Linked DNA regions of Homo sapiens. The protein of the gene in region 6 purifies or fractionates together with the protein of the main gene of each other region. This does not show direct contact. Each region holds a gene or a part of one and is shown on either strand. Other genes may lie near its edges. The genes, in order: RALYL, AARS2, YARS2, TMEM94, MRPS28, RBM3 and DICER1.

The links.
Region 1: the proteins of RBM3 (region 6) and RALYL purify together in Homo sapiens (affinity purification with mass spectrometry, with the first as the bait; one large-scale study listed by BioGRID). This does not show direct contact.
Region 2: the proteins of RBM3 (region 6) and AARS2 purify together in Homo sapiens (affinity purification with mass spectrometry; 2 studies listed by BioGRID and IntAct, with this or other methods). This does not show direct contact.
Region 3: the proteins of RBM3 (region 6) and YARS2 purify together in Homo sapiens (affinity purification with mass spectrometry; 2 studies listed by BioGRID and IntAct, with this or other methods). This does not show direct contact.
Region 4: the proteins of RBM3 (region 6) and TMEM94 purify together in Homo sapiens (affinity purification with mass spectrometry, with the first as the bait; one large-scale study listed by BioGRID). This does not show direct contact.
Region 5: the proteins of RBM3 (region 6) and MRPS28 purify together in Homo sapiens (affinity purification with mass spectrometry, with the first as the bait; one large-scale study listed by BioGRID). This does not show direct contact.
Region 7: the proteins of RBM3 (region 6) and DICER1 purify together in Homo sapiens (co-immunoprecipitation; one study listed by IntAct). This does not show direct contact.

The regions. Positions count from the first base shown.
Region 1 is NC_000008.11:84,917,102-84,921,705, forward strand, and holds part of RALYL (RNA-binding Raly-like protein), read left to right. Parts: intron 1-2,716; exon of another isoform or gene 2,717-2,812; intron 2,813-3,792; coding exon 3,793-3,810; coding exon of another isoform or gene 3,811-3,815; 3' UTR 3,816-4,604.
Region 2 is NC_000006.12:44,306,268-44,310,871, reverse strand, and holds part of AARS2 (alanine--tRNA ligase, mitochondrial), read left to right. Parts: intron 1-428; coding exon 429-573; intron 574-3,430; exon of another isoform or gene 3,431-3,477; coding exon 3,478-3,623; exon of another isoform or gene 3,624-3,638; intron 3,639-3,796; exon of another isoform or gene 3,797-3,840; coding exon 3,841-3,949; intron 3,950-4,339; coding exon 4,340-4,378; intron 4,379-4,480; coding exon 4,481-4,592; intron 4,593-4,604. UniProt on the Homo sapiens protein: Catalyzes the attachment of alanine to tRNA(Ala) in a two-step reaction: alanine is first activated by ATP to form Ala-AMP and then transferred to the acceptor end of tRNA(Ala). Also edits incorrectly charged tRNA(Ala) via its editing domain.
Region 3 is NC_000012.12:32,749,082-32,753,612, reverse strand, and holds part of YARS2 (tyrosine--tRNA ligase, mitochondrial precursor), read left to right. Parts: intron 1-2,738; coding exon 2,739-2,894; intron 2,895-3,505; coding exon 3,506-3,676; intron 3,677-4,531. UniProt on the Homo sapiens protein: Catalyzes the attachment of tyrosine to tRNA(Tyr) in a two-step reaction: tyrosine is first activated by ATP to form Tyr-AMP and then transferred to the acceptor end of tRNA(Tyr).
Region 4 is NC_000017.11:75,487,182-75,491,785, forward strand, and holds part of TMEM94 (transmembrane protein 94), read left to right. Parts: intron 1-750; coding exon 751-953; intron 954-1,577; coding exon 1,578-1,729; intron 1,730-2,084; coding exon 2,085-2,187; intron 2,188-2,394; coding exon 2,395-2,481; intron 2,482-3,052; coding exon 3,053-3,169; intron 3,170-3,520; coding exon 3,521-3,577; intron 3,578-3,867; coding exon 3,868-3,972; intron 3,973-4,121; coding exon 4,122-4,274; coding exon of another isoform or gene 4,275-4,286; intron 4,287-4,509; coding exon 4,510-4,604. UniProt on the Homo sapiens protein: Could function in the uptake of Mg(2+) from the cytosol into the endoplasmic reticulum and regulate intracellular Mg(2+) homeostasis.
Region 5 is NC_000008.11:80,002,285-80,006,888, reverse strand, and holds part of MRPS28 (small ribosomal subunit protein bS1m), read left to right. Parts: intron 1-3,708; coding exon 3,709-3,890; intron 3,891-4,604. Other genes in the region: TPD52-MRPS28 protein, read left to right, coding at 3,709-3,890.
Region 6 is NC_000023.11:48,578,713-48,582,392, reverse strand, and holds the end of RBM3 (RNA-binding protein 3), read right to left. Parts: 3' UTR 1,231-3,680; downstream 1-1,230. UniProt on the Homo sapiens protein: Cold-inducible mRNA binding protein that enhances global protein synthesis at both physiological and mild hypothermic temperatures. Reduces the relative abundance of microRNAs, when overexpressed.
Region 7 is NC_000014.9:95,091,530-95,095,029, forward strand, and holds part of DICER1 (endoribonuclease Dicer), read right to left. Parts: intron 2,628-3,500; coding exon 2,359-2,627; intron 1,166-2,358; exon of another isoform or gene 1,040-1,165; intron 1-1,039. UniProt on the Homo sapiens protein: Double-stranded RNA (dsRNA) endoribonuclease playing a central role in short dsRNA-mediated post-transcriptional gene silencing.

The DNA.
Region 1 (4,604 bases), on a different chromosome or scaffold from region 6:
TAGCCTTTTTATCTTTCCATTTCTGTATGAAATAACAAAACCCACTGATTTGGGCATTTGTGATCCACTATGCTAAAAAGCCCTGTTGTTTCTTGGTCTTTTTTATTTCATGACTATTGTGAGTCAGATGGAAAATAGGATAAAGACATGAGAATTACTGAGCAGAACAATGGGTTTGAGTTATAAAACTGAACAGTTAGGAGGGGCAGGGAAATAAGGACAGAGAAGGTGGAATGGAGACAGGGAAAAAAGCAGTGAGCATGTTCAGAAGACAGTTTGCCAGTGTAGTCACAATTTACCAAGAATCACTATAGACAATGTCAAGGGTTAGCCCAATTTACATTCAAGCATTTATCCTTTGTGTTACAAACAATTTAATTATTCTCTTTTAGTTATATTAAAATGTGCAGGTAAATTATTATTGGCTGTAGTCACCCTGTTGGGAAATTACATACTAGATGTCACTCATCTAAGCCTTGTTTTTAAAGTTAAAATCTCAGATGATTCTCCCCTGTGTTTTCTGATTCACTGTCCTATACTCTAAATGGCCATCAACTCAGGAATAGAGATTATTCAGCCTCCAAGAACTACCTAATGGAGCAGTTTCCTCCATTGGTAGTTATTCCAATAAGTTACTACTCATTTTGGTTTTCATTCCATTACAGTTTTTTGATATGATTATTTGAGCCTAAAAATGTAACGTAATTTGGTTCCTAAGAGTTTATTAACAGAAGACAAGTTTTAACTTATGATGAACAGTAGGTGCTGAGAATTAGTCTGTGTTACTTAAAAATTTGAATTGAATTGTATCTCATTTAGAATGAGGGATTTGTGAAAGCCAAATATATTCACATTGTCTATAAAAAGTGTGAGTGGCTGAATGATTACTCAAGAAACATGATCCATAGTGGCAACAAGTATAATTGCTGTTCATAAGACTTTGCTTTTCTATAAAGTGTTATGTGACCTGTCTTACCTACAGTTTCTTTCACCTTATTTGCATTTATATATGCTCCCTAAAAATACAGATGATGTAAATTTCTCTAAGTTCTTATTAGTTATAAATCTGAATTAGAACAAAAATAACAAGCATTCCTGCTACTGAAGAAGTCATAAGACTTATTTAAAAGTATGATTTTCTGGGCAGAGTGTAAATAAGGTGGATTTATTCTATATATTGCTGTACTCTTTTATTTCAAATATAGTAATGCATAAAGTTTAAAATTAAATGTGCCTTCCATGTAGATTAATACTATCCATTTCATCTTTGTCAAGTAGAAGTAATTGCTTGGTTCAATACAATCCAGTCCCATCCGAGTAGATCTCTTTGTTCTTTTTCAGAAATGGGAGAGATTGAGAGTTTAAAAAGCATTCATCATCAGGAGAATTTGTTTTAAAAGCTTCCAAGCTCCCAAACAGCCAGTAGATAAATTACCCACTATTCAGAGAAAGAGAGCACAATTAGTTTTACATTATACTAAAACAATCAGCTCCATAAGTGACTATGTTTCTTAAGAAAAAAGCAATATGAATGTCATAGTTTGTCCTCTTTCTCCCAGGCTTTACAGCCAACAGCAAGCCTTTTCTCATACTAGAAGTTTTATGGAAAGCTTTGTGAATATGTTTTGACATTGTTTTTAGATAAGGAGAAATATATTCATGACTTGTAACCATGTGGTTAATAATACCTACTTCACAATGCAAAGTTAATGAGTCTTTTGTTTTATTCAAATGCTTTGAAGCTTTATGGTAAGAAGGAAGACTTCAATAAATTATTTTCAAATCTACCTTTCTTTCCCCAATAATTATTTTTATGTAATTATTTACAACTAAGAAGCAAAGGAAGGTGTAAGAAAAAATTATACTGGGGGTAATGAATTATGCACAAAAAATCTACAGGTTGTTTTTTTCATCTTAACAAAATACATAGTTGCTAAACAGTCATTACCTCTTTTGACACATGCAGGATGGTGTAAGAATGTACTAAATTCATGTCAACTGCCATGACTTAACCTGGAGAAACACCATGACTAGTAAGCTTTACATACACAGCTGCTACAGTATTTTTAGCATTTTCCATTTATAATAAGAAAGTGATCAATGGAGGCCTTAGAGGAAAGAGTGCAATTGCAATCATATAAATAGCCTTATTTCCTTTTTTGCACACAAGTGGTATCTATCAAAATTCAAACATTGTAATACCTATTTTCATATATCAGTGTTCATCTATGGGTTACTTTTATTTTATTTTTTAAGTTATTCATTCTCATAATGATAATTGATCATTGTTGATATGTGCATGCAGGTCATATACAAAACTTCCTTTACACCACACAAAAAGTAGTCTACTTATGTTGTATAATAAGTTCGAACCTTTGTGCCTTAAGTACAAAACTGACTCTTCTCATGCACATAAACACAACCTGGAACTGCATGACAAACACATTTGAATAAAGCTTTCATTTTTCAAAATTCATATATATGTGATCAGTGTACAGTATGAATTGGGTAAGGAGAAAGAGAGGGAAGAGAAAAGGAAAAAGGCAGTGAAGGAGAGAAATAGAGAGAAAGAGAATATATCAAAATACAGTGTCAAAATGTCTTATTCATGAAAGCTTCTTTCCTAGGGATATAAGTTTTTAAATGTGTCTGACTATAGAAAAGACTATTAAGTGGGTATGTTTTGTTTTAGATCAGTTTATTAAATTTTTTTTCATGTTAGACAGGTAATGTGCCAATATCATAACAAGATTTGAGGGAGGCACATCTCACACATGAGTGTGAAAATTCAATCATCACATTCACTGAGTCTCTTTCAACCAGTAGTCTTAGCCAGGCATGAAATCTGGGGGGCTGCAAACCTCCAAAGAAATTCTCACCACCCATTTGCCACACTCAGTCTTTTTCATAATCTTTGTATCATGGACTTCAAAGCTTTAATAAATAAAGTCAAGTTACCTAATTCTCTGGCTACTTATAAAAGGTCAACATGTCCCATCCCATCTGATACCTTGATTTGCATGTCTTTGACTCTTAAGACATACACAGATTTTCTATCTAACCCCTAAGACCTTTGAAGTTGATGGGATAACAGTAGGTCTAATATTTTTTATCTAAATATAAAGACCTGGAACTTGATAGGATTCTAAGATAAATACATAATTTTCCCCACTGATTGAGTCTTGCATTATTTTGTCTTCATATTCAATTTCAATCAGTTGTTCAACCAATTGAATTTGGGCTCTTACATAATGCTTCAGACTCATGGTTGCACCATGAAGTCTTTCAATGTTTCTGATTTTCTTCTTTTGCAACCAAGATTGTGAAATGCAGATCAAAGACCTGTATTGGCTTTTTCTCCTATCCCAGATGCATAAGGCTTAGGACAGCACTGTTCAAAGCCTCGTAGTAGGGGTATCCTATGGTCATTCTTGTTAGGGGCACAACAAAGATTCACGAGTAATTGAAATCTCTTTCCCTAGTCTAGAACTTTAAGTGGTTCCTCCTTTGACTTGGACAAGAGCTCAGGTTGAAAAGTAATTGCTGACCTCAGGCAATAAATTAGCTGGATTAAAAAAAATCGTAACATTCCATAAATGAAAATAATTATAGATTTGCCTACAACAAAGGACCTAAGAACCTACCATCAAAATTATTTGTCCTAAATATCTAATTCTTCCTTTATTCTTCCCCTGATCTAACCTTAAAATCTAACTTACATATCAGTATACGCATGCTATCAACAATAAAACACAAATCTCTGTATTTTAAAATTTTTTTTTATTTTCTCAGTTTCTACAGATAAAGTGATCTGAAATAACGCATGATGCCACAAAGCAGAAAAGAGAAACTGTGACAACCCCCAGAAATGTGAAAGGAGGTTTCTTACTGGACAGCAGCATCTTTGGTTCAATTTATATAAAAACCCAAATAAATAAAATGGACAGTATTGCTCAGTTTTAGAAATTCCATTTCTTCTATGTTTTAAGCTGTACAATTGTCAGGTTTTTATGGTTTAAATTGTAAATGTGTTTTCCCCTTTGCTAATTATGTTTTTTTTTTCAGTCTTAAAATGTGAAAGGCATTTATGAATGGTAAGGGAAACACTATATACAAATGTATATTTGTAAAAGCTATTTTTATGATTAGCATGTTTCACTGTTGATCATATATAAAGTCAGGTGATATTGCAATTCTGTATTTAAAGCTTATTTCCAACAATGTCATGTAAGAAAAGATGCATCTTATGCTAGTTTTTATAATTTATTTATAATTTATAGTTTAAAGTACTTCAGATCATAATGATAAAATACTTGAAAAAGTTATATTTCTGCCCTGTATAAGCACCCTTTTTATTAATAAAGAATGCAGATATTTCAGATGTGATATAATAGTTAAAGAACTGTTGGTTTGATCTGTGATTAAGTTGAGCATGCTCCGCTCTACTGAACTAAATGATCCAATTATTACTTCAGTCTGGGTATGAGATTCCATGGACAAGTAAGGACTAGATTGCCAAGGAAAAGACTGTCTTGCCCTTGGATCCAAAAGTTTAAATTAGTGCATACATCATGTCATTTCACCTCCTGTTCCTAGGAACTCTC
Region 2 (4,604 bases), on a different chromosome or scaffold from region 6:
ACAATTCTCAACACCTTATAGATAATAACTGATTTAATTGTAGTCTTTGCCTGTGACAGCTTAAACAAGTCACTGCTATTCTCTGTTGAACTTGATGATCAACGAGTTGAACTTGATGATCTCAGATTTTCTTCTAGCCTTGACATATCTTTCTAGGGGCAAAGAATTCTGTCCCAAGATGGGATGTCTGGTGCCCAGGCAAGGGCCCAAGCAGGGGTGAGAATGGAAATAGCCCTATATGAGGAAGGACAGGACCCCAAGGCCATCATCATCTGCTATTGCAGGGTGGCAGGGGAAGATACTGATTGTCTGGTTCCTCCCACTGTCAGCTCCCTTGGGCCCCCCCCCATTTCTCTACTCCACTTGGGCATCTGTCTCACACCTGTAATCCTGGGTGGGGCCTCACCTTGCACACCTTCCCTGGCCAGAGAGGCAGATGGAAGCCTGCAGCCCCTGCCCCAGCGGCATGTGGACACAGGAATGGGCCTGGAAAGGCTGGTGGCTGTGCTGCAAGGCAAACACTCCACCTATGACACTGACCTCTTTTCCCCGCTGCTCAACGCCATACAGCAGGTGAGTGCCTCTTCCCTTCCAGAAGCCCTCTAACCTGCTCTTCACAGCCCTCAGCCCCATTGCATTCCATCTTTGTTGAGAACTCAGAGTGTTCTCAGCATCTGAGGACAATAACCAACCAAGAATTCCAAGACGTCAAGCAAGACACTAGGATTCATTACTTATTACCTGATGTTCCTCCTAACTCCTTGCCTCTTTCATTTATTTAGAAAATACGTGTTGAGTGCTTACTTTATGTTAAATCCTTTGTGTTTGGTACAGAAGACACAGCAGTAAGCAGGAAAGAGATCATGGAGATTATATGCTAGCATGAGAGATAGACAATCAATAAATGTGTTAAAGAACAAGGTAATAGCTTACAGATTGTGAACAGGCAGTAAACATGGGTGAAAGTAACTAGGAAGAAGGAGGGGTACAGAGGAATCTTAGATAAGGTGCTTGGGGAAGGCTCACCAAGAAGATGACCTTTGAGCTGAGCCCCAAAGGAGGAGTCAGCTACAGGAAGTTCTTTCCAGGCAGAGGGGACAGCAGGTACCAAGGGCCTTGGTACTGATGGATTAGATGGGGAGGGGAAAGAGAAATCAAAGATGGCTCCCAGGCTATTGGCTTGAGCAACACAGTGAATGGCATGACTGTTTACTGAGATGAAGAAGCTTGGGGAAGAGAGAGGTTTGGAGCTAGGTGAATCAAGCTCCCTGCTTTGGAGCATTTCCACATGTGTGTAGCTTATACCCTCCCTCCTTGCCCCGCAAGAAAGGGCTTGACATGTGCCAAAAACTAAAAGGTGGCCAGCCAGCTAAAGGAGAATCCCATGGGATATAGTAGGAACATGTGTCAGTTGGCTTTTGCTGTATAACCACCCTAATGCTCTGTGGCTTAACCAACAACCATGTATCTGCCCCCTGAGTCTGTGAGCTAGCGTTTAGGCTGGGCTTAGCTGGCTCATTCTTTGGTCTTGTGTGAGCTCATTCATCCATCTGTGGTGAGCTGAGAGGCCGCAGCTCCTCTGGGGCTTGGCTGGCTGTCAGTTTGGGGGCAGTAGGGGTGACTGGACCATGTGTCTGTCATCACCTAGCTGGCTAGTCTGGGCTTGTCCACATCACAGCTCAGCAAGGTTCCAAGACAGAGAGCAGACACATAGGCTCAGAACAGTGTTGTTTCCACTGTATTCTATGGGCCAAAGCAAGTCACAAAGCCAGCAGAGATTCAGGGGATGGAGAAATGGATTCTGTCCCTTGATGGGAAACAGCTGTAAAGTCCCATTTTAAAGTGGCATATGCCTAGGAAAGGGCCATTTTTGTGAACAGTCTCACAGAGAAGAAGGCAGAATCCAGTCTTGTGGGCCTCAAAGTCCAAAGTGGGGCCTTGATTCTCAGAGTGGTGAGAAGAGTTCTCAGGGCTGGGCACGGTGGCTCACTCCTGTAATCCCAGCACTTGGGGAGGCAGAGGGGGGCGGATCGCTTGAGGTCAGGAGTTGGAGACCAGCCTGGCCAACATGGCAAAATCCTGTCTCTACTAAAAAAATAGAAAAATCAGCCAGGCATGGTGGCACACACCTGTAGTCCCAGCCACTTGGGAGGCTGAGGCAGGAGAATCTCTTGAACCCAGGAGGTGGAGGTTGCAGTAAGCTGAGATCGTGCTACTGCACTCTAACCTGGGCAACAGAGTGAGAGTTCATCTCAAAAAAAATAAATAAATAAAAGTGTACATCAGATCATGCCACACTCCCCACTGAGAACCCTTCTTTTTTTTTTTTGAGACAGAGTCTTGCTTGCTCTGTTGTCCAGGCTGGAGTGCAGTGGCATGATCTCGGCTCACTGCAACCTCTGCCTCCGGGGCTCAAGCAATTCTCGTGCCTCAGCCTCCAGAGTAGCTGGGATTACAGGCACCCGCCAACACACCTGACTAATTTTTGTATTTTTAGTACAGATGGGGTTTCACCAGGATTGGCCAGGCTGGTCTCAAACTCCTGACCTCAGGTGATCCACCCGCCTCAGCCTCCCAAAGTGTTGAGATTACAGGTGTGAGCCACCGCGCCCAGCCTGATGTACACTTTTAAAAGGCTACTCCTGTTGCTGTGTGGAGGATGAGCTGGAGGGAGATGAGAGCAGAAACTTAGGAATCAGTTGGGAGGCTATTATCGGTCCAGGCAAGGACCACAGGGCATGCTTCGGATAATAGCAGTGGAAGTAGAGACAAGTAGATTGATTTGAGAGATGTCATGGAGGTAGGAGCAAAAGGAACCACTGATGGATCATGACGGGTAGGGGAAAAAGAATTCAAAGATGGCTCCCAGGCTATTGACTTGAGCAACACAGTGAATGGCATGACTGTTAGACGAAGAAGCTTGGGGAAGAGAGAGGTTTGGTGGTAAGTGAATCAAGCTCCCTGCTTTGGAGCATTTCCGTGTATGTAGCTTACACTCTCCCTCCCTGCCCACCCCCACAAAAGATGGGAGAGGCAAGAACAGGTAGTGGAGAGCACCTGGAGTCCAACAGGCCCGGCTGAGATCTCAGATCTGCTCCTTGAGAGCTGGGTAGCCTTGTGTCACTGAGTTCCTCTGAGCCTCAGCTTCTTCTTCTTTAAAGCAAGCATGCTAATACCTCCTGGAATGGGCTGTTTTGGGGATTCGAGGCCATGTTGTTCAAGTACTCACCCAGTTCTGATAGTAGAAATTCAGTAAATGGTCACAGATATGTTCACTTGTAGCACCAAATATGAGCCCCGTGAGGGCAGGGCCTGGCTTGTGCTCATCTGTGAGGCTTCTCAGCCCAGGACTGGACTGGCAAGGCCATTCTGGATGTGGTTGGCTTTAGGGCTGAGGGCAGATGCTCTAGAGGCGATAAAGAGCACCCACCTGGGCCAGGTCAGGCAGGGCCACTGGCTGACTCTTCTGCTTCCCAGGGCTGCAGGGCACCCCCTTACTTGGGCCGAGTAGGGGTGGCAGACGAGGGGCGCACAGACACAGCGTACCGCGTGGTGGCTGACCACATCCGCACACTCAGTGTCTGCATCTCTGATGGCATCTTCCCTGGGATGTCAGGTCCCCCGTGAGTCTGGAAGGGCTACAGAGAGGACAGGGGCTGCTGGGGGTCTCAGGTGGAGGAGGGAGGGAACAGGAGAGGTGGGTCTGGTTGAGCCAGTAGGAGGAATGGGGAGAGGGAGAGCTTTGAGGTGGGAGCACACACTGGACCTCGTCCTTCCCACTCCCCATATTGCTGACCATGAGCCGCTGGGGATTCATGTCTGGGCTCTGAACCCCTTTAGGCTGGTTCTTCGTCGGATCCTGCGTCGAGCTGTGCGTTTCTCCATGGAGATCTTAAAGGCACCACCTGGCTTCCTAGGCAGCCTGGTACCTGTAGTGGTGGAGACACTGGTAAGGACAGAGCTTCTTTTTCACTCTGGGCCTCCCTGGGCACTTTGGGGAGCCTACCACTGAGCCTAGACAGTGCCCCCAGCCTGGGTGCCCAGAGGTCCCCACCCTAAATATCGAGCCCAGCATCCTATCAGCAAGCTAAGAAAGCTGTCCTTGCTTACAAGAAGCAGGAGAACTTGAGGAGGCTCCTTTTCCAAACTGCTCAGCCCTTGACCTCAGGACCCCCTTCTGCCACCCTACAGGGAAACCAGTTCCCCATTTGAGTCCCTCTCCCAGCCCCTCAATGTGTCTGAGCCTCCAGGGCAGGTGTCCTCAGGGAGGCCCAGGGTGGGGAGGTGGGGGTGGGTTGGTTGCCTTTCACACCTCCTCAGCCCTCTCCACCTCCCCCAGGGAGATGCTTATCCAGAACTGCAAAGGAACTCAGCCCAGGTACTGGATTCCAGTGGGAGAGAAAGGGGTTGATGGGAGAGTTGTGGAGAGAGACCCTCCTTCCAAGGAGACCCAGCTCCACTTCTTCTCTGCCTGGTTCAGATCGCCAACCTGGTGTCAGAGGACGAGGCAGCCTTCCTGGCCTCCCTGGAGCGGGGTAGGCGGATCATTGATCGGACTCTGAGGACCCTGGGGCCTTCAGATATGTTCCCTGGTAAGCAGGATA
Region 3 (4,531 bases), on a different chromosome or scaffold from region 6:
GACTACCCTTATTTTTCCTTTGTCTCTCTTCTCTCACAAATATGACTTTAAAGATCCTCTTAAGAAATGATTTCTCCTTAAATCAAATTGCCTTAAACTCTTGGAAGAATATGAATTAATGAGAAACAAATATACCTGCAACAAAAAGTGAAAAAAATATTTTGATGCTCTGTAACATCAAAGTAATCTAGGAATAATTCTTTAAGACTTAAAAGGTATATGACTTTCCTGCAAAATATTAAAAGATGCTATTGAGCAAAATAAAGACCTACATAAATGGAGAGTTAGACCATATTCATAGTACAAAAATAATATCAGTTCTTTTTTGTATTTTTTGAAACAGAATCTCACTCCCATTGCCCAGGCTAGAGTGTAGTGACGCAGTCTTGGCTCACTGTAGCCTGAAATTCCCAGGCTCAGGTGCACACCACCATGCCCAGCTAATTTTGTATTTTTTTTTTAGTAATGGTGGAGTTTCACCTTGTTCCCCAGGCTGGTCTCAGACTCCTGGACTCAAGCGATAAACCTGCCTCAGACTCCCAAAGTGCTGGGATTACAGCATGAGCCCCCGCACCCGGCCAAGATACCAGTTCTGGATTTGATCTACATTTAGTACAGTGCCAACCATATCTAAACCGGCTTTTTGTGGAACTTGACAAGCTCATTGTAACACTGACATAGAAATAAAAAGGGCTAAGATTGGCCAAGATGTTTTTGAAGAACAGAGTGGAAGATTATCATGCCTTATTACAAAATTTTGGTAATTGTGTTTTTTTCTCTTTAGATTTAGTCCTAGAATGTTTGACGATATAGTCCTGGGGTTTTGATGTATTGAGAATTGATAATCTTTTTTTTTTTTTTTTTTTTTTTTTGAGGCAGTGTCTCACTTTGTTGCCCAGGCTAGAGTGTAGTGGCATGATCTTGGCTCATTGCAACCTCCGCCTCCTGGGTTCAAGTGATTCTCCTGAGTAGCTAGGACTACAGGCATGCGCCACCATGCCCAGCTAATTTTTGTATTTTTGTAGAGGCAGGGTTTCGCCATGTTGGCCAGGCTGGTCTCGAACTCCTGACCTCAAGTGATCCACCTTCCTCAGCCTCCCAAAGTGCTGGGATTACAGGCTTGAGCTACCGCACCCGGCCTAGAGAATTTAGATAATCTTTTCAAAAATTGCATTTTCTATCTGGTTCTGGTGTATAGAAATACAATTACTTTATATATATTACCTTTAAATCTAGCAACTCTGCCAAACTCACTATTTGATTACAGACGTGAGCCACTGCGCCCGGCCCAATACTGTATTTCTTGACCATGGTGATGGTTACATAGATGTTTTATGATTCATTAAGCTATATCTTTGTGAATAATGTACTTTTTTCTGTGTGTTATATATATTTCACCAAAGAAAAAGAGAATACATATAGGATGATATTATAGTCATATATCACTTAACAATAGGGATACATTCTGGGAAGTGTGTTGTTAGGTGATTTCATCATTGCAAATATCGTAGAGTGTCCCTGCACAAACATAGATAGCATAGCCTACTACACACTTAGGCTATACAGTGTACCCTGTTGCTCCCAGGGTAGAAGCACATACAGCACATTACTGTACTAAATACTGAAGGCAGTGATAACGCGAGGGTAAGTATTTGTATACGTAAACATAGAAAAAGTACAGTAAACTATGGTATTATAATGTTATGAACCACTGTTGGACTGTACCAGTCCGTGGCCTGTTAGGAACAGGGCTGCGCAACAGGAGCTGAGTGGCAGGCGAGCGAGCATTACACCTGGGCTCCATCTCCTGTCAGATCCACGGTTGCATTAGATTCTCATAGGAGCACAAACCCTATTGTGAACTGCGCATGCAAGAGATCTAGGTTGCGCATTCCTTTTGAGGATCCAACAAATGCCTGATGATCTGAAGTGGAACAGTTTCATTCTGAAACCACCTCCCCTCCCCGCCGCCTCGTGGTGCCAAAAAGGTTGGGGACCGCGGATATATGTAGTCCATCATTGACAGAAACATCATTATGCAGAGCATGATGATTTATATCAGTTTTTAAAATTACACAGTACTTTTTTTTTATGGCCACATGCACATGAAAGTATAAAAACATGCTTGGGAAAGATGGCAGCACATAAACTTAGATTTATGATTATCTCGGGGCAAGGAAGGGAATGTGATTGGACTGCGGCCTTCATCTATGCCTATTTTGTTCCTTTTAAAAAGAAAATACGAGGCTGGGCTTGGTGGCTCCTGCCCATAATCCCAACACTTTGGGAGGCTGAGACAAGAGGATCACTTGAGCCCAGGAGTTTGAGACCAGCCTGGGCAACACAGGAGACCCCGTCTTTACAAAAAAAATATAAAAATTAGCCAGGCGTGGTGGCACAAGCCTGTGGTCCCGGCTGCTTGGGAGGCAGAGGTGGTAGAATTGCTTGAGCCCAGGAGGTTGAGGTTACAGTGAGCCATGATCATGCCACTGCACTCCAGCCTGGGCAACAGCAAGACCCCCATCTCAAAAAAAAAAAAAAGAAATTGAAAACAAAGATGCCAAAATAGTAACACCTTAAATCTGGGTGATGTGTGCATGGGACCTACTATGTTCAGTACATTTCTGTATGTTTGTTTCATATTTAAAAGTAAGCAGGATAACCTTAAAGGGTAGAAGAGCTGGAGATAAAAATTAGGTATGTTATATAAGTGTAACTCTTTATTTTTTGTCTCAAAGGTACCTGAAGCTGTTCACTTTCCTGCCCCTTCCAGAGATTGATCATATCATGCAGCTGCATGTCAAAGAGCCAGAAAGGCGGGGTCCTCAGAAACGACTGGCAGCAGAAGTAACAAAGCTTGTTCATGGACGAGAAGGATTGGATTCTGCTAAAAGGTAGTAGTTTAGTATGATTAACACTTGATAGTTAGTTATTCAGTGGATAGACATGAGAAAAGTAGGAGTATGTTTTAGGATTATCTTGTCATTTATCACAAGGACTGTCAGTATTTGACTTAGCAATTTAAAATAGCCCCTGTTTATTGGAAAGAAGGATTATCTTGAATTAAGTTTATGAATTATACCAGATAGATGTTTAAAAAACTTTTAGTCTATGCCGGGCGCGGTGGCTCACGCCTGTAATCCCAGCACTTTGGGAGGCCAAGGTGGGCTGATCACGAGGTCAGGAGTTCGAGACCAGCCTGACCAACATGGTGAAACCCCCATCTCTACTAAAAATACAAAACTTAGCTGGGCGTGGTGGCACACGTCTGTAATCCCAGCTACTCAGGAGGCTGAGGCAGGAGAATCGCCTGAACCCGGGAGGCAGAGGTTGCTGTGAGCCGAGATCATGCCATTGCAATCCAGCCGGGGCAACAGAGCGAGACTCCATCTCAAAAAAAAACTTTTAGTCTAGAACTTGGACACTCTATAATTGGTTAATGGGTATTAGAACATGTATTTGAATAAACATTTATATGATGTAGCTCTTAAAATGTGTTTTTCAGGTGTACACAAGCCCTTTATCACAGTAGCATAGATGCACTGGAGGTCATGTCTGATCAGGAGTTAAAAGAGTTGTTTAAAGAAGCTCCATTTTCTGAATTTTTTCTCGATCCTGGAACAAGTGTCCTAGATACTTGCCGCAAAGCAAATGCCATTCCAGATGGTCCCCGAGGGTAAGATTATTTAACTTTTAGATTTACAGTTAATTCACCATTAAATGTTACAGTTCACAAGGCCAGGAGAAGTGGCTCATGCCTGTAATCACAGCACATTGGGAGGCCGAGGCGGGCAGATCACGAGGTCAGGAGATCGAGACCATCCTGGCTAACACGGTGAAACCCTGTCTCTACTAAAAATACAAATTAGCCGGGCATGGTGGCAGGCGCCTGTAGTCCCAGCTACTTGGGAGGCTGAGGCAGGAGAATGGCATCAACCCGGGAGGCAGAGCTTGCAGTGAGCGGAGATCCCACCACTGCACTCCAGCCTGGGTGACAGAGCAAGACTCTGTCTCAAAAAATAAATAAAATGTTACAGTTCACAGCATGTGTTTCCAGAGAGGATGTTTTCCTGATAGTGCTTTAGTGGCATCTCTTCCTTAGAAAAGTTAGTTTAGTCCAAGAATAAAGTATAGCCTGAGAGTACTTATTGTTGAAAATACTTTATATTTTCTATAATAGTACAGTACTCCTATACTGTCTCTTATTATATCTAACCCAGTCAGTCTTTCCTCCAACACTGGAAAAGTGCATTTGAGGGACATGTTCAGTAAATACACTGGCATCAGTGTACGGCTTAGGGATATGGTCACAGTTTTAGAGGGATGCAGAAACAGAGGCCCTATGTAACAGATTAACACAGCCCCTCTCATAGTCTGTATCCTTTTTATATTCGGGGATGGGAAAGGTTACCTAACCTATCTATAGTATTAACTGAATTTCTGAAAATGAAATGAGCATATAATGGCCAAAACCGCAAGTACTTTTGCACTAACCTACTAACGTCATAAGACTATTATTGTAAACTATATA
Region 4 (4,604 bases), on a different chromosome or scaffold from region 6:
CAGGAGCATCAGTGGCTCCCTTTTGCTTATGGAAGCCATCCCAGAGGCACGAGTGGCCTCCCAGAGCCTCCAACACAGGCTCACCTTCCTCTCCAGCCTCTTCTCTTCCTCCTCATTCTGATGCTGAAACTACTCACCAGTCCTAGGCCCACTGTGTATCAGCCTCTGCCTCTGTGCCTCTCTCCACTGTTCTCTGCTGGTGAGCTTCTCCCTCACTCATCTCCAGCTGACAAAACCATTCTTCCAGGCCCATCCCCAGTGCTTCCTCTTTCAGGAAGCCACCTCTGATCGCCCCAGCAAATCGGTTTGCTCCCTCTTCTGGACTCCTGCAGCACAGGGATCTTTGTTAATGCTTAGCCGTGTTTGCCTTGTTTGGCGTTATCTGTCCACATGTCTCATCTGCCCCACTGGGTTGTGGCTCCTTGAGGAGCTATGTTGTTGTCTCCACCTTGCACCCCTCACAGGCCCTCTGCAATGTTTGTGAAGTGTATCTGAATGGGATGGGGGTACAAAGAACGAGAGCTCCAGGTGTTGAGAGGAGGTAGAGGCTCTGGGGCTGGAGTGGCCGGGTAGGGCTTTATAAGGGAGGCATCCTTGAAAGCAGGGAAGTGTTGGAACGAGTGGAGGGGTTTGACGCAGACCTCCTGGGAGAGGAAGTGGGCAGACAGTGCTTCCGGAAGTGCTGCTGTATCTGACTGGGGGGCAGGGCCGTGGCTGAGAGGGTTGTTTCCCTCTTTCCATTCCCCTCAGATGCCCTCAGGGATGGCAGGGAGATCCAGTGGCCCAGTGCCATGTATCCAGACCTCCACATGCCTTTTGCGCCATCCTGGTCCTTGCACTGGGCCTACAGAGACGGACACCTGGTCAACCTGCCAGTCAGCCTGCTGGTTGAAGGAGACATCATAGCTTTGAGGCCTGGCCAGGAATCGTTTGCTTCTCTGAGGGGGATCAAGGTAGCTTGAGGCTTTCCTTCTCCCTTGGAAATGCGGTGGGAACATCCACAGGCAACGATGGGAGGGTCCCCAGACTTCATCCGGAAGCTTCCCGGCCAGCTTACTGGCTTTTTGGCAGAGGCTCTGGAACATCTTCCTCCACCCTGCTGTTCTTTTTTTTGAAACAGGGTCTCACCCTGTCGCCCAGGCTGGAGTGCAGTGGCACGATCTCAACTCACTGAAGCCTCTGCCTCCTGGGTTCAAGCGATTCTCCCACCTCAGCCTCCCCAGTAGCTGGGATTACAGGCACATGCCACCACACCTCAACTGGCTTATTTTTTATTTTTTGGTAGAGATGGGGTTTCGGCATGTTGGCCAGGCTGGTTTCGAACTCCTGACCTCAGGTGATCCACCTGCCTTGGCCTCCCAAAGTGCTGGAATTACAGGTGTGAGCCACCACGCCTGGCCCCCTGTGCTGTTCTTTATTCTCGCTAAAAGTCTAGTCCCACAGGCCCTGTCCCAGTGGACTCTGGGCTAACTGATGGCTCCTAACCCCAGCGAATGTCTGTACTTAGATGAATTGTCCAGGAAGAGTGGCCTCTGATAGGACCCTCTCGTTCCCACTCTCCCACTTGCTGCCGGCAGGATGACGAGCACATCGTCCTGGAGCCGGGAGACCTCTTCCCCCCCTTCTCCCCTCCACCCTCACCCCGGGGAGAAGTGGAGAGAGGGCCACAGAGCCCCCAGCAGCACCGGCTTTTCCGTGTCCTTGAGACCCCTGTGATTGACAACATCAGGTAGGGGTGCTGCCCCGCCTCCTCCTGTCCCTGGTGTCTTCTGTGAAGAGGGGAATGGGACTGACAAGGAAGGGGCCCCGTTCATCTCGAGGTTCTCTTGAGGGCAGGCATCTCCTTAGGCTCCTGTCCTTAACATCTTGTGAGAATTCTTAGACTGAGTGGTGCCCTCTCCCAGTCTCTACTCTGAGGGGACAGCTCTGGAGGTGAACACGGGCTAGGGCCAGGGCAGAGCGTGGAACTGCAGGACTCACGGTGCTTGAAGAAGCGGTATCTGGCAGAGAGGCCCAGAATCCTCCCAAGGTGTAGGTTTCTAGCCTCTCTGCCAAGTGAGACTGACAGTCACTTCTTTCTGCAGATGGTGCCTGGACATGGCCCTGTCCCGACCAGTCACTGCCCTGGACAATGAGCGGTTCACAGTGCAGTCGGTGATGCTACACTATGCTGTGCCCGTGGTCCTGGTGCGTGTGGCGGGGCTGTGCGGGGCTGCATGGGGCAGAGGAGAGGGCTGGACACGGGGGGGTCTCAGGGCCACTCACATGAGCGGGAGTGAATGCAGAGGGTCCCAGAGTGAGCCAGCCTGTGGAGTAGCAAAGGAAGGGGAACGGCAGTGCCTGGGTCCCTCTAGAGGGGCGGGGTCAAGGCTGTGCCTCTGCTGTTCCCAACAGGCCGGCTTCCTCATCACCAATGCCCTGCGCTTCATCTTCAGTGCCCCGGGGGTCACTTCCTGGCAGTACACCCTCCTCCAGCTCCAGGCAAGGACCACCCTGTCCTCTCTGTCATGCTTCCCTCCGACCCGCAGGGCTGGCTCTTCTCCTAGTACCCTGGCTGTCCCTCCCTCTCTGCAGCCCAGAGGTCCCCTCACGCTTCAGCTTAAGAACACCTCTTTCCAGCTGGGCGTGGGGACTCAGGCCTGTAATCCAAGCACTTTGGGAGGCCACGGCAGGCAGATCATGAGGTCAAGAGATCGAGACCATCCTGGCCAATATGGTGAAACCCCGTCTCTACTAAGAATATAAAAATTAGCTGGGCGTGGTGGCACGTGCCTGTGGTCCCAGCCATTCAGGTGGCTGAGGTGGGAGAATCCCTTGAACCTGGGAGGTGGAGGTTGCAGTGAGCCGAGATCACGCCACTGCCCTCCAGCCTGGCGACGGAGCAAGACTCCGTCTCAAAAAAAAAAAAAAAGAACACCTCTTTCCCTTCCTGCCCCTGAGAGAGCTGGCCCTTCCTGCCCAGGGAATGGCCGTGGGGCCAGGGCAGCCCTTCCCTTCCCTCCTCCCCAGGCCCGGAGCTCAGGAGCCATCTGTGTGGTCCGCTCCTTCCCAGGTGAATGGCGTCCTGCCCATCCTCCCCCTGCTCTTTCCAGTCCTCTGGGTTCTGGCAACTGCCTGTGGAGAGGCCCGTGTCCTGGCCCAGATGAGCAAGGCCTCACCCAGCTCCCTGGTAGGTTTTTCCAAGGTGTCTGGGGGAAGTCACAGGAACAAAAAGAGGGAGCTGGCTGTGCCAGAGGACGGGGGCAGAAGTCCAGCCCCACCTTGGGCTCGGCATGTTGGTCAGCCTGGGCAGCTCTCCAGGCCTCGGGCCCTCTCCATTCCAGAAGGGCCTCCAGGCCAGGCCCTGGGTGTGAGTGAGCGTCTGCCCTGGCTTCCACCAGGTGGGGAGTCAGAACGGCCTGGGCCCTTTACCAAAGGGGTTGGGAGCCCCGCTGGTGTGGGCCCCCCCTCTGCCAGCTTGGAGAGGCCTGTGTGAAGGCGGCGTTTTCCTCACTGAGGACCTCACCCTCTCTCCGTGCAGCTGGCTAAGTTCTCAGAGGATACTCTCAGCAGCTATACGGAGGCTGTCTCCTCTCAGGTACAACACTGACCCGGGATGGCTTCTCTCGCAGGTCCCTAGAGCCATAACCCTGGGACTCCCCTATTTATGGCCTTAAAGCCTCCAACCAGGCTCTTAGAGCCCCATGTCCACCCGTTACATGTGGACATAACCTGGACCTGTTCCCATAACGTGTCCACACCCTGTCCCAGAGAAGTGCCTCTCCACCCCAACTTCGTGGTGCTCCCCTGGATTTTCCCCTAGAGGCCGTCTCCAGGGAAATGAGGCTGAGCCCTAAATGGCCTTGCAGACTTCCTCTCTCCCACCAGGAAATGCTGCGCTGCATTTGGGGCCACTTCCTGAGGGTGCTCGGGGGGACATCGCCAACGCTGAGCCACAGTTCCAGCCTGCTGCACAGCCTGGGCTCTGTCACGGTGAGGGTGGGCCTTGCGGGGAGGAGGCAACTGTCATGCCCGCCCTGCTCTCTGGCTGGGCCTGGGCTGCCCACCTGCCGCTTGAGTGGCCCCTGGGCAGGATAGGCTAATGCCAGGCCCCTTTCCTATCTCAAATGCTTTCCATGCAGGTCCTGTGCTGTGTGGACAAACAGGGGATCCTGTCATGGCCAAATCCCAGCCCAGAGACTGTACTGTTCTTCAGCGGGAAGGTGGAGCCCCCTCACAGCAGCCATGAGGACCTCACCGATGGCCTATCCACCCGCTCCTTCTGCCATCCCGAGGTAGAGGAGGAGGTACGGCCGGCTCCCATGGGCCCGACTCTGGGCCAGGCTGTTTAGCCTTGGAGCCTGGCCAGGGAGGGTGAGGTTTCGGAGGGCGAAGGAGGGTTTGGGCACCATTAGGATCTGCTTCTGGGCAGGTGAGGTGAAGACAAGGCAGCCAGGGGACCTAGAAGCATCCTGCCTCCCCAGGCCATGGGAGCCACTGGTCCTAGCCTGTGCTCCTCATTCTCTTCAGCCCCATGAACGAGACGCCCTCCTGGCTGGCTCCCTGAACAACACCCTGCACCTTTCCAATGAGCAGGAGCGTGGCGACTGGCCTGGCGAGGCTCC
Region 5 (4,604 bases), on a different chromosome or scaffold from region 6:
TATTGATTGAAATAGTTTCAGAAGGAATGGTACCAGCTCCTCCTTGTACCTCTGGTAGAATTCAGCTGTGAATCCGTCTGGTCCTGGACTTTTTTTGGTTGGTAGGCTATTAATTATTGCCTCAATTTCAGAGCCTGTTATTGGTCTATTCAGGGATTCAACTTCTTCCTGGTTTAGTCTTGGGAGGGTGTATGTGTCGAGGAATTTATCCATTTCTTCTAGATTTTCTAGTTTATTTGCGTAGAGGTGTTTATAGTATTCTCTGATGTTAGTTTGTATTTCTGTGGGATCGGTGGTGATATCCCCTTTATCATTTTTTATTGCGTCTATGTGATTCTTCTCTCTTTTCTTCTTTATTAGCCTTGCTAGCGGTCTATCAATTTTGTTGATCCTTTCAAAAAACCAGCTCCTGGATTCATTGATTATTTGAAGGTTTTTTTGTGTCTCTGTCTCCTTCAGTTCTGCTCTGATCTTAGTTATTTCTGCGTTCATTTTGTTATGTACCCAGTAGTCATTCAGGAGCAGGTTGTTCAGTTTCCATGTAGTTGAGCGGTTTTGAGTGAGTTTCTTAATCCTGAGTTCTAGTTTGATTGCACTGTGGTCTGAGACAGTTTGTTATCATTTCTTTTTTACATTTGCTGAGGAGTGCTTTACTTCCAACTACGTGGTCAATTTTGGAATAAGTGTGATGTGGTGCTGAGAAGAATGAATATTCTGTTGATTTTGGTTGGGGAGTTCTGTAGATGTCTGTTAGATCCACTTGGTGTGGAGCTGAGTTCAATTCCTGGATATCCTTGTTAACTTTCTGTCTTATTGATCTGTCTAATGTTGACAGTGGGGTGTTAAAGTCTCCCATTATTATTATGTGGGAGTCTAAGTCTCTTTGTAGGTCTCTAAGGACTTGCTTTATGAATCTGGGTGCTCCTGTATTGGGTGCATATATATTTAGGATAGTTAGCTCTTCTTGTTGAATTGATCCCTTTACCATTAAGTAGTGGCCTTCTTTGTCTCTTTTGATCTTTGTTGGTTTAAAGTCTGTTTTATCAGAGACTAGGATTGCAACCGCTGCCTTTTTTTGTTTTCCATTTGCTTGGTAGATCTTCCTCCATCCCTTTATTTTGAGCCTATGTGTGTCTCTGCACGTGAGATGGGTCTCCTAAATACAGCACACTGATGGGTCTTGACTCTTTATCCAATTTGCCAGTCTGTGTCTTTTAATTGGAGCATGTAGCCCATTTACATTTAAGGTTAGTATTGTTATGTGTGAATTTGATCCTGTCATTATGATGTTAGCTGGTTGTTTTGCTCATTAGTTTATGCAGTTTCTTCCTAGCATCGATGGTCCACAGTTTGGCATGTTTTTGCAGTGTCTGGTACCGGTTGTTCCTTTCCATGTTTAGTGCTTCCTTCAGGAGCTCTTTTAGGGCAGGCCTGGTGGTGACAAAATCTCTCAGCATTTGCTTGTCTGTAAAGGATTTTATTTCTCCTTCACTTATGAAGCTTAGTTTGGCTGGATATGAAATTCTGTGTTGAAAATTCTTTTCTTTAAGAATGTTGAATATTGGCCCCCACTCTCTTCTGGCTTGTAGAGTTTCTGCCGAGAGATCCGCTGTTAGTCTGATGGCCTTCCCTTTGTGGGTAACCTGACCTTTCTCTCTGGCTGCCCTTAACATTTTTTCCTTCATTTCAACTTTGGTGAATCTGATAATTGTGTGTCTTGGAGTTGCTCTTCTCGAGGAGTATCTTTGTGGCGTTCTCTGTATTTCCTGAATTTGAATGTTGGCCTGCCTTGCTAGATTGGGGATGTTCTCCTGGATAATATCCTGAAGAGTGCTTTCCAACTTGGTTCCATTCTCCCCGTCACTTTTGGGTACACCAATCAGACGTAGATTTGGTCTTTTCACATAGTCCCATATTTCTTGGAGGCTTTGTTCATTTCTTTTTACTTTTCTTCCTCTAAACTTCTCTTCTCACTTCCTTTCATTAATTTGATCTTCAATCACTGATACCCTTTCTTCCGGTTGATCGAATCAGCTACTGAAGCTTGTGCATTCGTCACGTAGTTCTTGTGCCGTGGTTTTCAGCTCCATCAGGTCATTTAAGGACTTCTCTGCATTGGTTATTCTAGTTAACCATTTGTCTAATCTTTTTTCAAGGTTTTTAGCTTCTTTGCGATGGGTTCTGACTTCCTTCTTTAGCTTAGAGAAGTTTGATCGTCTGAAGCCTTCTTCTCTCAAGTCATCAAAGTCATTCTCTGTCCAGCTTTGTTCCATTGCTGGCAAGGAGCTGCATTCCTTTGGAGGGGGAGAGGCACTCTGATTTTTAGAATTTTCAGCTTTTCTGCTCTATTTTTTCCCCATCTTTGTTGTTTTATCTACCTTTGGTCTTTGATGATGGTGACGTACAGATGGGGTTTTGGTGTGGATGTCCTTTCTGTTTGTTAGTTTTCTTTCTAACAGTCAGGACCCTCAGCTGCAGGTCTGTTGGAGTTTGCTGGAGATCCACTCCAGACCCTGTTTGCCTGGGTATCAGCAGCAGAGGCTGCGGAACAGCGAATACTGATGAACAGCAAATGTTGCTGCCTGATTGTTCCTCTGGAAGCTTCGTCTCAGAGGGGTACCCGGCTGTGTGAGGTGTCAGTCTGCCCCTACTTGGGGGTGCCTCCCAGTTAGGCTACTCAGGGGTCAGGGACCCACTTGAGGAGGCAGTCTGTCTGTTCTCAGATCTCAAACTCAGTGCTGGGAGAACCACTACTCTCTTCAAAGCTGTCAGACAGGGACATTTACGTCTACAGAGGTTTTTCCTGCCTTTTGTTCGGCTATGCCCTGCCCCCAGAGGTGGAGTCTACAGAGGCAGGCAGGCCTCCTTGAGCTTTGGTGGGCTCCACCCAGTTGGAGCTTCCTGACTGCTTTGTTTACCTACTCAAGCCTTGGCAATGGTGGGCGCCCGTCCCCCAGCCTCGTTGCTGCCTTGCAGTTTGATCTCAGACTGCTGTGCTAGCAATGAGCGAGGCTCCGTGGGCATGGGACCCTCCAAGCCAGGCATGGGATATAGTCTCCTGGTGTGCCGTTGGCTAAGACCATTGGAAAAGCGCACTATTAAGGTGGGAGTGACCCGATTTTCCAGGTGCCGTCTGTCACAGCTTCCCTTGGCTAGGAAAGGGAATTCCCTGACCCCTTGCGTTTTCTGGGTGAGGCACTGCTTCGGCTCACACTCGGTGGGCTGCACCCACTGCCCTGCACCCGCTGTCCGACAAGCACCAGTGAAATGAACCCGGTACCTCAGTTGGAAATGCAGAAATCACCTGTCTTCTGGGTCACTCACGCTGGGAGCTGTAGACTGGAGCTGTTCCTATTCGGCCATCTTGGAACCCCTAATTTTGTATTTTTAGTAGAGACAGGGTTTCTCTATGTTGGTCAGGCTTAGAACTCCCGACTTCAGGTGATCCACCTGCCTCGGCCTCCCAAAGTGCTGGGATAACAGGCGTGAGCCACTGTGCTCCACCTTGATGCCTACTTTCTTTAGCTCCTCTTCAGGAAGGAAAGGATGGAAGAGGAAGTTGAAGAGCATAACTGGCATTTTAAAGCAAAATTCCACATATATTTTAAAATTATTGCTACAACAATTGACTTTAAGAAAATTTCTTTAAGACTTTATTATACCTTCATGTTGAGTTATATGTATATAAATATCTCTTTTCATATTTAGGGTTCTCCAAAAAATGTGGAATCCTTTGCATCTATGCTGAGACATTCTCCTCTTACACAGATGGGACCTGCAAAGGATAAACTGGTCATTGGACGGATCTTTCATATTGTGGAGAATGATCTGTACATAGATTTTGGTGGAAAGTTTCATTGTGTATGTAGAAGACCAGAAGTGGATGGAGAGTAAGTAAAATCATTTCCAAGTACCTTAAGAGTATTCATAAAAGTTGGGATAGCGCAAAAGTATTGTTGAATGAAAGGTGATTTTTTGAAAAGACAGAAAACATATTTATTTGTCTTGATAATGCTGCAGTAAAGTCTGAAGTGCTTTAAAAATACTTGTTGGTCATGTCAGGCCAGACTCATATCTTCTCAAAGCAGTGAGAGCAGTTGTTGGGAAGACTTGAATGTTCATCCTGATAATAAGCCATTCCACACCATAAACTTAAAACCAACTTTGTAATAATGCATGTTGCTTAGGCTATTTTGCCTGGAACCATTTTTTTGTCCCTTCTCTCTGTTCCATAGTCTCTTTCCACTTCTCCTTTCTTTTCTTATTATTTTGCATCTATTTTTAGGATTATTTTTCCTAATAAATAGAGTTCATTCTGTTGTGGTTTATGTAGGTAAAGATATTTATGAATATAAATAGGCACTGGAGAAAGCACTAAGGTGGGAGATCTAGGAGTGGAATATCAAGAGTCAAGGAGAGGTTGAACTAAGATTCTGAGATGGGAAAACAATAGAACAATAGTAAACGAGATAGAAGTGATTTTTTTTCCCCATCAATTTCTAATGTGCATTTTTTACTTTTCACTATTTTTGATATCAGGATGCATGTTACAGTTGACAGTATATTAAATTAACTGGCAGTGTTTTTTTTTAATCATATATAAA
Region 6 (3,680 bases):
TGAACTCCTGACCTCAGGTGATCCACCTGCCTGGGACTCCCAAAGTGCTGGGATTACAGGCGTGAGCCACCGCACCGGGCCCCAAATGATTTTTTGAGTAGCGCATGCCCAATTACCTTTTACAAGACAGACTCACATGCTGATTTTCCAGCCTTCAGCAAGAGTGTGGAGACAAAAGTTACTCCATCTTGGATGCCAATCCACCACGTTTACTTCTGACTAGCGCCAGTCCTGTAAATGCCTGATTCCTCCTTTGCCATCCCTAGTTTAAGAGCTTGTCAGGGGCCGGGCGCGGTGGCTCACGCCTGTAATCCCAGCACTTTGCGAGGCCGAGGCGGGTGGATCACGAGGCCAGGAGATCGAGACCATCCTGGCTAACACGGTGAAACCTCCTCTCTACTAAAAAATACAAAAAAATAGCCGGGCGTAGTGGCGGGCTCCTGTAGTCCCAGCTACTCCGGAGGCTGAGGCAGGAGAATGGCATGAACCCGGGAGGCGGAGCTTGCAGTGAGCCCAGATCGCGCCACAGTACTCCAGCCTGGGCCACAGAAAGCCCAGATCGCGCCACAGCCAGGGCCACAGAGCGAGACTCCGTTTCAAAAAAAAAAAAAAAAAAAAGAGCTTGTCAACTTTTACATTATCGCACAAATTAGATGATGATGCATAGAGTATTATGCCTGTTCTGGAGTTGCCTTCATCTTGAGCACACTCTTTCCCTATGGTATGTAAGCCGTGGGTTGAAGAGCAACAGCATGGTTATCTTGCTGCCACCCAAGGCCATGCTTATTTTTGAGACAGTTGTGCTCTGTCGCTCAGGCTGGAGTGCAGTGGCACGATCTGGGCTCACTGCAATCTCCACCTCCCGGGTTCAAGCCATTCTTGTGCCTCAGCCTCCCAAGAAGCTGGGATTACTTGGTGTGCGCCACTACACTCGATTAATTTTTGTATTTAGTAGAGACGGGGTTTCATCATGTTGGCCAGGCTGGTCTCAAACTCCTGACATCAGGTGATCCACCCACCTCGGCTTCCCAAAGTGTTGGGATGACAGGTGTGAGCCACTGCGCCCGTCCCCACGTCATGCTTCTAAGTCCCCCCAGTAAAGAACCCTTTACTAACAATTTTTGTCTGCCTTGTTTCTTGGCTCCTTCGGCATTTGGAGGTTTGCATACAAGGCTCTTTCATGGGAACAATGAGTAAATGGATATATGCATTAAAAAAACGAATATACTCTTTCACAGCATATTAGAAATGTTTATTAAGAATAATGGCATGAACTGCTTTTAACAATTTAGAAAAGACCCATTCCCCCCGCCCCCCCCCGCCCCCAGATCCAGGGCACTTCCTCTAAGTAAATACAAATATTTCTGTAGTGAACTGTATGCATATTCCCACTGAGTAAAGGTTATAAGAAGCCTCAGGTCAGGTCTTACCACCAAACTTGAAAACACTTGGAATGCAGCTGGGCAGGGACTTGAGCAGGTTTTGTCTTGATAAGCAGGTAAGAATGGCAGAACACTGGCTTATTGTCAACCAATGTTTTTTTATATACCTGAAGTATTCACAGCAACTTATTTTAAGAAGCTTTTTAAAAGTTCTACACCTCCACCCCCACAACTCCCCAATCCAGAACATGGAACAAGGGTGTGGAGCTGTTTGATGGACTTGGTCTGTTCTTAACATTTAATACTCTTAACTCCTAGGCCAGGTGTGGTGGCTCACGCCTGTAATCCCAGCACTTTGGGAGGCCGAGGCGGGTGGATCACTTGAGGTCAGGAGTTCAGGACCAGCCTGCCCAACACGGTGAAACCCTGTCTCTATTAATACAAAAATTAGCCGGGCGTGGTGGCAGGCACCTGTAATCCCAGCTACTTGGGAGGCTGAGGCATGAGAACTGCTTGAACCTGGGAGGCGGAGGGTACAGTGAGCCGAGATTGTGCCACTGCACTCCAGCCTGGGAGACAGAGTGAGACCCTGTCTGGAAAAAAACCAACAAAAAAACACTCCTAACCCCTGTGTGAGGTGGGTATTATTATTTCCATTTTATGGATGTTATAACTGAGGCAGAGAAGAAATTAAACTAGGAAGCAAGGATCTGAAGTGATTTCTGCCTAGGTGGGATAGGAGGGGTTGGGCTTAGGACTTGAAAGCCTAATTGAAAACCAAAAGCCAATCTCTTAATTTATTCTGGCCCTTGACAAGAGATTTGGTGAATGGTTCAGAAAGATTTTTGGTACAGACAAGTTCCAGGGCTTGAAAGTGAAAAGTAGTTACAGGCCATGTGTTTGGTCTTTGCAGGTCTTGGGATACATGTTCTCAAGGTACCTTGAGTGTTTGGGGGGTTTCTAGCCTCAGTGGGTTCTTGACAAATGTGCATCAGTTGGATGCTGAAGACAAACCAAAGTAGGAGACCAACAAGCACTTTAAGGGTGGTCGGGGGTTGACCTCAAATCTGGAACTTTATTCATCACAGACTATGGCACTATAGAGAACTGTGGGCTCTCTTCCTTAGAGCAGATAGACAGCCAGAGACTGGGACTCCCTGGGCTGGATGATCACAAAGCACATTGTAAACACAGCAGAGCAGAGCAGGTTTAGAGTTGTTATACAAATAAATTTTGGTCTTCATTGATTCCACTTAGGAACATTTTGTTGCAGGAATATTACTGATTATGGATCCTACCTCAGCTGACACTGGGGGTGAGAGGTACATTGCCATCCTGAGAGACAGGGAGCAGAGGACCCCCTCCAATCCCCCGACCTACAAGGCATTCACAGCAGTCCTCCTGCCAATTCTCACTGCCTTAGCTCCCTAAAGGCCCAGAATAAGATGCGTCCTCAGACCAAGTATCCACCTGGTGGGGTTAGCCACAATGCCCCATAGCCTGGGCCTGGCTTAGTGGGTGAGGTGGAAGTTCCCAAGTCTCCATCCACCTGCCAAAGCAAATTCATGACTGTTTGGGTTACAGGAAGAAGGGATATTGGGGCCTGTCCCAACTAGCTGGGAAACTCAGGAGGCAGGCCTCCAGGACTGGAACTAATAATACAGGGTTCCACAACGCACCAGCAAGGGAATAGGCAGCTCAGGACAATAATGTCCTGGAGTTTGCAACCTGGTGGTAACTTAGCTCAGTATTAGCCAGGTGAAAGCCATGAATACAACAGATTTTTCTGTTCCAAACTAGAACCAATGGAGGGATAACACCCATGGGGCCTCAATACAGCCACTAGAAAGAACCATGACTAAAGGGAGCAGAACTGAGGAACTAAGACCAGCTAGAATTACAAAATTACCACTTTACCACCCAAGACACACACACACCAAAAAAGATCAAATCCCCGTGACTGAGAGCTTTGCCAACTCTTCTCAGTGGCTTTATATGCCAATTAACCTAACCCTCCACAGAAAATGTAAAATGGCATAAGGCTGAAATTAAATGACTCACCTGAGGTCAAATACCTGGGAAGTAGAAGAGCCCCTACATAAATCCTGGAATCTGAGCTCTTAGCATTGTTTTCAAACCAGGCCTCTCTCATGGCCCTCATACACAAAGATGAGTTCAGTGCATCTCTGCCCAACCCCCATCATTTCAGGGGAAGGAATGAACTGGTACCACTATTTATGATAGGGATTAGCTCACGCCATGAGATTAGGTGCTTATGTTCTCAGAACAATGGGACTA
Region 7 (3,500 bases), on a different chromosome or scaffold from region 6:
ATATTTTTAAAAAAGTTTTTCAAACTTCTCAAGAAAAAAAGAAAAAATATCCCCACCCCATTTATTATTCTATATACCCAGCAAAGAAAAAAGATTACTTCTAACTTTAAACAACCTTAACAAAGAATTAGAAATAGTCAATAAAAGTATGAAAAAAATTCAAATTCACTCGTAATCAAAGAACTATACTTTAAAACAGTTCTACTCCCTAGCTGCTTGGCAAGCATTCAATAGTACTAATTGGTCTGGTGCTGGCACGGGTGTATGCTGCTTTGGGGAGCAGAAATCGCTGTTGTAGGGAAATAGGGAAATTATATTTGAAAGATTTTTTCCTCCAAGTTCCCTCTTCATTAAGCCACTAGATATGTGTTCACTATAACCGAGTATCTGACATAGCATGTATGCAAATTAATAAAAGAAAATCATGCATCAAAAGCCTTTGAAAAGTTCACAATTCTTTGATGCAGCAATTGCATCTCTAAGAACTTATTTTAAGGAGGTAACTAGATACATAAGCGTATTTATCACCTCCATGGTTATTAAACATCCTAACCAAAAACTACTTAATTACTCGGCCATAAAGAAGCGTTTAAATCAATCAGCCACGTGTTGACTAGCGTGTGGCCCCTGAGCATCACGATACCCATCAATACACGGAAAGTCAGCCACAATATATTATACGTGAAAAGAACAGGTGACAGTATCCTATACATAACAGAATTCCATTTTACATTTTAGATATGTTTATATCTATACACATCCACAATTCCTCCCAAAATGTTAATATTGGTTATTTCCGAGGTAGCATAATCAGGCAAATTTAACTAATTTTCTTCTTATTTACTTGTACTAACTTTTCTAAAATCAACACAAATCATTTGTGAAAAAAATAAAGAGAAAGTGGGAAAATACTAATTTCTAATAGGTTGTTTAGCCATACAAAGTTACATATAATACATTTATACTGCTGATTACTTAAAAAAACAGACTTATTGTTCATATTTATGGTTTTGAGATAGAAAGGAATTTTAAAACTTACCAAGTTTAATTCTCTCTTTTTACAGCTGAGGAAACGGAGGCCCAGAGAGGTAAAGAGACTTTCTTAAGATCAAATAGTAAGTTAGAAATGCCAGACCATGACATTTCCAATCAGTTCTTGTAACTTCTATACATATGTTTATATAAACAAAGGGAAGGAAAAGAATGAACAAAAACTAACAAAACCAATATGCCCCACTGGCATCCAAAGAGAGCTTAAATCTAATTTTAACTAATTCCTCAAATTTCAAGCTTAGCTATTTCTAAAGAATGAGACTAGGTAACACTTGGAAGTCTACGAGCTGGTCCCGCCTTCTCGCCTCACAGCCTGCCACGCTCCAGCTCAGGCTGTTCATCTTGGACAAGAGCACAGAGGCGCGTTAAAGTAAGAGCAGGGCCTACTGACTCCTCCAGTGCACATCTGGGCAGCTGGCAGGGCGTGAACTCGGCTCTGCGGCTAGACTTCAAACCTACTCTTAATTTTTGTCATAGAAAGTCACTACTCCCCAACAAAGGTTTGGTGCAATTAAAAAGGGGAAGGTACAAATTAAAGCAATGACAACTAAAACAGCTACTAGTATTAAGGTTGTATTTCCTGACTCCTTATAAGAAAATCTACAAAAATAAGAAAATCAAAGGAAATGAAATGGGAAGAGGAGGAAATGAGAGTCTCTCTGGGGGACACAGGTATGCAGATGAATGTTAAGAGACTGGAAAGATCTAAGCAATATCCTTTCCTACAAAAATTCGAAATAGCTCACAAACACATTAGAATTAGCTCTGTCACCAGACAGCCTTTGGCTGAACTTACAATAGAAGCCTCCCAAATTCCAATGGTCAAAAATTTAGAAGTTTGTTTTTTAAATTAGATTTTCCCACTTCAAGTAGAAGCAGAATGTATATTTATGATGCTTCCCTGAGATATTAGCAAATATTTCTGATCCATTTAAAAAAGGAAGGATAAGCTACACTGGGCTTTTACTAAAGCTAAACCTGCCTTGGGGTCCGGCAGTGGAGGCCACTTCTTTGGCATGCCTCAATGCTGGAAGCCCTCATGAAGGCGTGGGAAGGGTACCTAACTGAAAGGCCTGGTTCCTTCTCTTCACCTGAATGACCACACAGCCCACAGTGGGGGCAGACAAGTTCAAGAGGCCTACCTGCAAACTGCAGTTCACTCGTGCTCCCACAGAACACAGCACACTGGGTCCCACACCCCTGACCTCCTGCTGTCCCTTTAGACCACTATGCCGTCAGAACTCTGAAACTACAGAGACTCCTAGTTAGACCACTTTTTTCAACATCGTTTTGAACAGCACTAACCTCAGAATCCATTCCTTGCATTTCATTCTTCTCAAGCTGAAACTGCACAAAGTCATCAATGACATGGAAGAGCTCAGGAGAGACAGCTTTGAAGTACTTGTGGTAGTCGTACTTTACAGCCAGCGATGCAAAGATGGTGTTGTTGACCAGGGCAGACCGCAGGTCTGTCAGGACCCCCGGGGAGTGCTGCCGCGGGTCTTCATAAAGGTGCTTGGTTATGAGGTAGTCCAAAATCGCATCTCCCAGGAATTCTAAGCGCTGGTAACAATCTGAGGGGATCCGAAGTGGAACCGTAAGCTTGTGCAGAAGCATTTACACTATCCCCACATAGCAACTGATCCCCAAATCCGAAGAAGATTTGTATTTACAATCATTTTCATACATATATTCTTCAAAAAGGATATCTGACATATCATACTAAAAAGCCTCTGGAAACTAAATTTTAATGACAAATTAAGTACATTTCTTATATAAACTGGGGTCATAAAATCTTCAAGTGGTCAAAAGACTAACGCTTGTTAAGAAGGAAAAACAAAACCTCACAGGTGCTATCATGATCACTGAATGCTTTTCTCTGGCACTGTGCTGTCTGGGCAGGTGCTGGGGCCTTCCTCTCGAGTCTCCCTCACACATCATCACTTAAGTGAAACCAGGGCCGCACACACCTCTCCATGTGGCTACACTGTGCTGCCATCGCTAAAGTCTCATTCACACTCTGGAATCTGTGCATAAGTGATACCATTCCTCACTATTCCTGGGCTATTTTTGTTACACAGGATGACAGGAAAAGAAGACCCTCTTCTTAACTTGAGCTATTATAGAAATGAATTTACCACAAACCAAGAGATTGAGAAAGAAGAGTTGTGAAAGGGAGCAAAGGCAGGTAAACTGGTTGTCAAAATGTGAAAATGATCAATGTTAAATCAACACCTCTATTTTCTCACAGTGATTAAAATAATATATCCAGCTGAGGAAACTGAGGCAGGGACCGATGGTGACTTGTCCCAGAATAAGCAAGGAATTAAGAAGCAGGGACTGCTAGGCGAGAACCCAGGTCTCGGAACTTCCAGCAGAATGTAGTCGAAAGCCACGTATCATTTTTCCTCCATAACGAAAATTAGGCTTTAGTTTCATCAGTCTTT